Linked DNA regions of Homo sapiens: region 1 is linked to region 2. A link means that fine-mapping ties the variant in region 2 to the expression of a gene that starts in the linked region. Tissue or cell type: whole blood. Region 2 holds a variant in brackets; the other region holds the start of a gene. All regions are shown on one strand. Distances are from middle to middle.

Region 1 (2,677 bases), 430 kb after region 2:
AATGGACCAGCTGGATGCAGGGCAGGGGACTGAGGGTGCTTGAGTAGGATGTGAGACTTCATGGGCCTGGGTTCTGTTGAGTTTTTTCAGTATCAATTTCTTAAACCAAATTTTAAAAAAAACAAGGTGGGGGGGTGCTCATCTCGTGACCTCTGCCACCCACATCCTTCACAAACTCCATGTTTCAGTGTTTGAGTCCATGTTTATTCTGCAAATAAATGGTAATGTATTGGACCCCATGTGTGGCTTCTGTGCTGTCACCATCAGTGCCTGAGCCCTGGCTCCTAGCAGAGGTCTCAGAGCCTCTGTGACTGGCTCATTTTCTGCCGGCTTTTCACTTCCCTTGGCACCTGTCCCCCAGGAGGCGGGCCTAGACAATAACCTCTGATCTCCAAATTGCCCACCCTCTGGGCCTCTGAGCATCTTCGTTTGTACAACAGGGAGAATTGTGGGGACCAAATAGAATCTGTGTGAAAAAGCACCTTGTCACCTGCAAAATGCTCTTTGAACATGAGGCTTTTTTTTTTTTTTTTTTGAGATAGAGTCTCGCTGTTGTCGCGAGGCTGGAGTGCAATGGCGCGATCTCAGTTCACTGCAACCTCCGCCTCCCCAGTTCAAATGATTCTCCTGCCTCAGCCTCCTGAGTAGCTGGGATTACAGGCGCCTGCCACCACAGTCAGCTAATTTTTGTATTTTTAGTAGAGACGGGGTTTCACCATGTTGGCCAGGCTGATCGCAAACTCCTGACCTCAAGCGATCCACCAGCCTTAGCCTCCCAAAGTGCTGGGATTACAGGCGTGAGCCACCGCACCCGGCCACGAAGCATTATTAAGGTGACCACACCACTGCCCCCTGCCTTCAGGATGGGAGGCCTTGTTCTCTGAGTGTCAGTCTCTGGCTACCTTGCCACGTCCTTGACAATGTCTGCTTTCAAATATCACTTTCTCCTTCCTTCCTTCTTTCTTTCCACCGCCTGAATGAATCTTTTGTTCTGCGGCAAGCCAAGAGAAAATGGTAGGATTGATTCCCAAGTGTGAAAGCGGGGGCGGAAGTGGTGTCTTCCAAGAGGAGTCTGGGTGCCCTGCCGAAGAGGGGAAGATGCAGCGAGGGAGAGACCTAGAACCGCGATCAAAGCTGCAGCAGCTGCTGGGGCTGGCGGCACAAAGGGAGGAGGGAGGAGCCTGGGCGCTGAGAAAGTTCTTGGGGAAAGTTGAGCTGAGCCAAGAGTCGGGCGGTGGCTGGGATGGGCGGGAGGGCCCGGCCCGATTTCCCTTGCTGCTCCCCTTGTGGCCTGGTGAGTGGGAAGTGAAACCAAGGATAGGACCAGTGGAGGGACCCTCTAATTTATGGGAGGAGACATGAGGGGTTCATGGAACCCCAGCGGGGGCAACTGGGCAGTCACCAAAGCTGGAGGGGACAGAGGGCTGGGATCTCCAATCATGGGAAGGGAGAGATGGATGGAAGGAAATGAAGAACTCTGGATAGGGGAGACGCGGCTAGACCCCAGGGGCTGTGATCAGGGAGGGAATTGGGGAGTGATGCCAGAGAGGGCAGGTCTCCGGGAGTAAAAGTGTGGCTTCTCTCTGCTTGGGGTTACCCCTGGCTCATCGGAGCAGGGAGCTGTCGGGGCTTGTTGGAGGGGCCGTGGTCCCTGATCGCGAGTTGTAATCTGAAGGGGCGGGGCTGGACTCCCGGTTGATTAGGAAGCTCGGGCTTCAGAAGGAACTCTGCAGTTAGTGTTTGCGCCTTTCTCCTTATCTTTGTGTCATAGTCTCTCTGTCCCTCTGTCTCTCTCTCTCTGTTTCTCTGTGTGTGTGTGTGTGTGTGTGTGTGTCTCTCTCTCTTTCTGTCTCCCTCTCCAGCCCCACCCTTTCAGTCTCCTCCGGGTGCACTGATAAGGTTGGAAAGTGGAATGGTGGGTAAGTCCAGGGATCTGGGCTTTATAAGTAGCCACACGTCTCCCCCAGCCCCTGTCATACATGGGGGTCTGCCCCGTGCTGAGACAGAGAAAAAAGAGGCGCGGGAATTTATAACCCAATGGCTCTTACCCATTGCAATGCCACTCCTGGAAGTCCAACCTCCCTTCCTCCTGCCTGGGTTCATACACCTGTGTCCTGTCTGATCCTCATTCCCACTGTATGGCTTCCCTTCCTGGTCCTGGGATAGGGCTCTTTATCCCCATCTGTGACAGCCAGAGGGGCTCTGGAGGAAACCAGGTTCCCGACCATGGTCTGACCTGACTGTGTTAATGAGCTGATTGATCTGATCTCTCTCTCTCTTGCTGGCTGTTTCATTCACGAGCTGGGGCTTTTTCTCTCCTTCCCTTATAAATCCCCAAGGCTCAGGGACAACTGTAGGTGGGGAGCGGGAGGAACTGGAGATAAGAAAGTGATAGAGCAGAGACAGTAGTTGTGGGGCCACCTAGGAGAGTCTGGGTATAGACAACATCCCCAGCCACTCCCCTTCCCTGAAGGAGGTCTCAGCTGCAGCAGGAGAGAAGGCTGCCTCTGCCTCTCTCCTTAGACTTCCCTTCTTCCCCCCTCATTTCCCTTCTAGACGCTGACAGAGGCAAAAATCTGCTAACTCAGGGGGCAGACTCAACCAAGACTGTGAGCAGGCCTGGGGAATGACCCCCCGATCTCCAACCAGTGCCTTCCGCAGCTGCACGGCTGTCTCC
Region 2 (2,677 bases):
TGCGGGAGGAGGGGAGAGAAGACGGGGAGGAGGGACTGAAGGGGCGGTTAGTGAGGAAAATGGGTCAGGGAGGTAGGGGGCCCTAGGCACTGGGGCGCGGGGTGGGCGGGGCGGAGGTTAGGGCTGGGGGCGGGGCTGCGGCCGGGGCGGGGCCTGGAGGGGGGGAAGGCGGAGGTGAGGGAGTTCTCACCAGTGCCCGAGGTGGCCCGCCCGCTGTACCAGAGCAGGAAGCCTCGTCCTCCTGTGCCCTCATCCGTCGTCATCCTCAGGGTCACCTGGTTGCCGGGGGCGACTAGGGGCGCAGGCCGGAAGGTCCCACAAAAGCGTCCGAGCCGCTGGCCGGAAGTCCCAGACCCAGCGAAGACCTCCAGAGCATCGTAGCGGCAGGCGGGGTGCAGCTCCAGGTCGAAGACTCGGAATGAGAGGGACACAGTCTGGCCCTCGGGGACCTGATAGCGGGGACAGAGGCGGGGACCCACAGAGTCAGGCCCCACACAACCCAGCCAGAGGGCAGCTCCCCTGCCCCAAGCGTTTCTTGCAGAAACGGACTGAATGGGAAGGGGCCTCCATGTGAGTGCAGAGCAGAGGGCCTGGTCTCTGCAGCTCTGCTGGTAGCCTGTGCAGGGGACAAGAGCTGAGGCTTTGGAAGAGGAGGGAGGGCCGGGGACTGGAGAATGAAGATTTGAGGGAAGGGTTAAGATGATGCGTGTTACGGTGGGAATGATGCCTTCAGTGACAGAGGGAAGACACTTGGAGCTGCCCCAGGTTGAGAAGGTGGTGCGGGGGGGACGGGGGGGGGGTCCCTTCGCAGTCAGGCCTTTTTGCCTCTGAGACTTTAACAAGGGGTAGTGCCCAGAGGGGTTTCTCACCGTTATGGTCCAGATGCACTCCTTATTAGGGGGGTAGAGGTTGGGGAACCCCTCACTTGCCACGTAACCTGATTCCCCCTTCACATCCCCTCCGCACAGGAACACGGGTCTGGAGAACAGAAAAGGGGTCAGGAAAGAGCAGGGACGGGTGGGACGGGGGAGCACTGGCAAGATGGGGATGAGGTGATGAGGATGAAACTCCAAGGAGGGAAGCTGGGGGATGAAATGGAAAGGCC[T/C]TGAGAGACCTGGGGCAGCTTCCACCAGCCAGGACAGGGCTGGGGTGTCCCAGACTCCCACAAAGATAAGGGAAAAGTGGGCCTGGCAACTCGACCATCCCTCCAACCCCAAGAGTCCCCACCCCCACCCCAACAGGAATTCCCGGAATCCTCCTCGGCCCCCCTTCCAGACTCCCGCCTCACTCTGCCTGGCAGTCCAGGGACAGGAGCCGCCTAACTACTTCCAGATGTGGACACAGCCACGAGGCGGTGGGGGGGAGGGGGTGGAGAGATGGAGGGAGCTGCAGTGGCGATGGCCCTCTGATTGAACCTGGAGGCCAGGCTCCGCGAGCTCCACACCTTAGCCCTGCCCCTGTTCCAAACTACTTCAGATTCTGACTCCCAAGTCTCCACTCACTGCCCCCTCCTCCCCCTACAATCCCTCTCGAATTCCTTCCTGGAATCCAGCTACCAGGCAAGTTCAGGAGCTTGGCTCTCTCTTGGGTTCTATGGGGGGTCAAGGATCTGGGTGGGTGGGGAGACTTAAGAGACCAGAGGACGAAGGTGGGGGAATGGGAGCAGTGGTGGCCTGCAGGAGACCAAGGTCTTGCAGCAGATGGGGAGGATTTGGGGGCCAGAGAAGGGTGAGGCGGTGGGGAATCTGGGGAGTGGTGTGTCAGCAAGGGAACCCAAAATATCTCCAGGCATAACCCCAAAGGAATCGGGGGTCTGAAGTTCACTGGAGCTGTCTGGAAGATGCCAAGAGACCTACCTGGTGTAGTTGGGGGTCTGGCCCTGGGCAAAAGGCAGCAGGGCGCAGGCAGTGAGGAGGGGCCCCAGGAGGGAGGCTGTGGCTGCAGGCAGCATGGCCCCGGGGGAAAGGCGCTGGGGTCCTCAAGACAGAGGCAGCAGCTGAATTTTGCAGAGCAGCAGCAGCGGTGGCGGCAGCAGCAGGATAATCAGCGCCAGATGGGGCAGCCTTGGGTGTGTGGGCGTGGGGACTGGCCAGTGGGGCGGGCAATGGGGAAGGCGGGACAGTGGCGTGTCCTGGGACCTCTCTAGGTCTAGGACACATAAATGTTGACCTTAGGAGGGGGAGGAGCAGTGAGGGGCAGAGGCCGTCTCCCAGGCCTCAAGTAACGTCATCGGGAACCCCACTCTGTCCAGTGAGGGAGTATCTCCGGGAACTTCTGAGGACTCCCTAGCCCCCATCCTCCCCCCGCCCCTGCTTCCTCAGCTCAGGAGCCCTCATTGCTCACCCCCTGCCTGACCACCCCTGCCAGCTCATTTTCCACTTCAATTTCTTTTTTTTTTTTTTTTTTTTTTTGAGACAGAGTCTCATTCTGTGACCCAGGCTGGAGTGCAGTGGCGCGATCTCTGCTCACTGCAACCTCCGCCTCCCGGGTTCAAGCAATTCTTGTGCCTTAGCCTCCCGAGTAGCTGGGACTGCAGGTGCATGCCTCCACACCTGGCTAATTTTTGTATTTTTAGTAGAGGCAGGGTTTCAGCATGCTGTCCAGGCTGGTCTCAAATTCCTAGCCTCAGGTGATCCGCCCACCTCGGACTCCCAAAGTGCTGGGATTATAGGCGTAG

The links. PIP is the estimated chance that this variant, and not a neighbour inherited with it, causes the effect.
Region 1: GAL3ST4 starts here. The variant in region 2 is fine-mapped to the expression of GAL3ST4 in whole blood (INTERVAL, PIP above 0.99).

The regions. Positions count from the first base shown.
Region 1 is chr7:100,167,163-100,169,839 of GRCh38, reverse strand. It overlaps GAL3ST4 (galactose-3-O-sulfotransferase 4), which reads left to right and starts at 1,223. Exons shown (of 4, transcript NM_024637.5): 1 at 1,223-1,294; 2 at 2,557-2,677. It overlaps GPC2 (glypican 2), which reads left to right. Exons shown (of 10, transcript NM_152742.3): 10 at 1-234.
Region 2 is chr7:100,601,731-100,604,407 of GRCh38, reverse strand. It overlaps PCOLCE (procollagen C-endopeptidase enhancer), which reads right to left and starts at 2,045. Exons shown (of 9, transcript NM_002593.4): 1 at 1,857-2,045; 2 at 870-978; 3 at 191-449. The coding sequence starts at 1,951. It overlaps PCOLCE-AS1 (PCOLCE antisense RNA 1), which reads left to right and starts at 370. Exons shown (of 9, transcript NR_038910.1): 1 at 370-570; 2 at 1,242-2,068. RefSeq lists a silencer at 1-136 and an enhancer at 144-936. The variant T/C (reference allele first, on the strand shown) is at 1,106.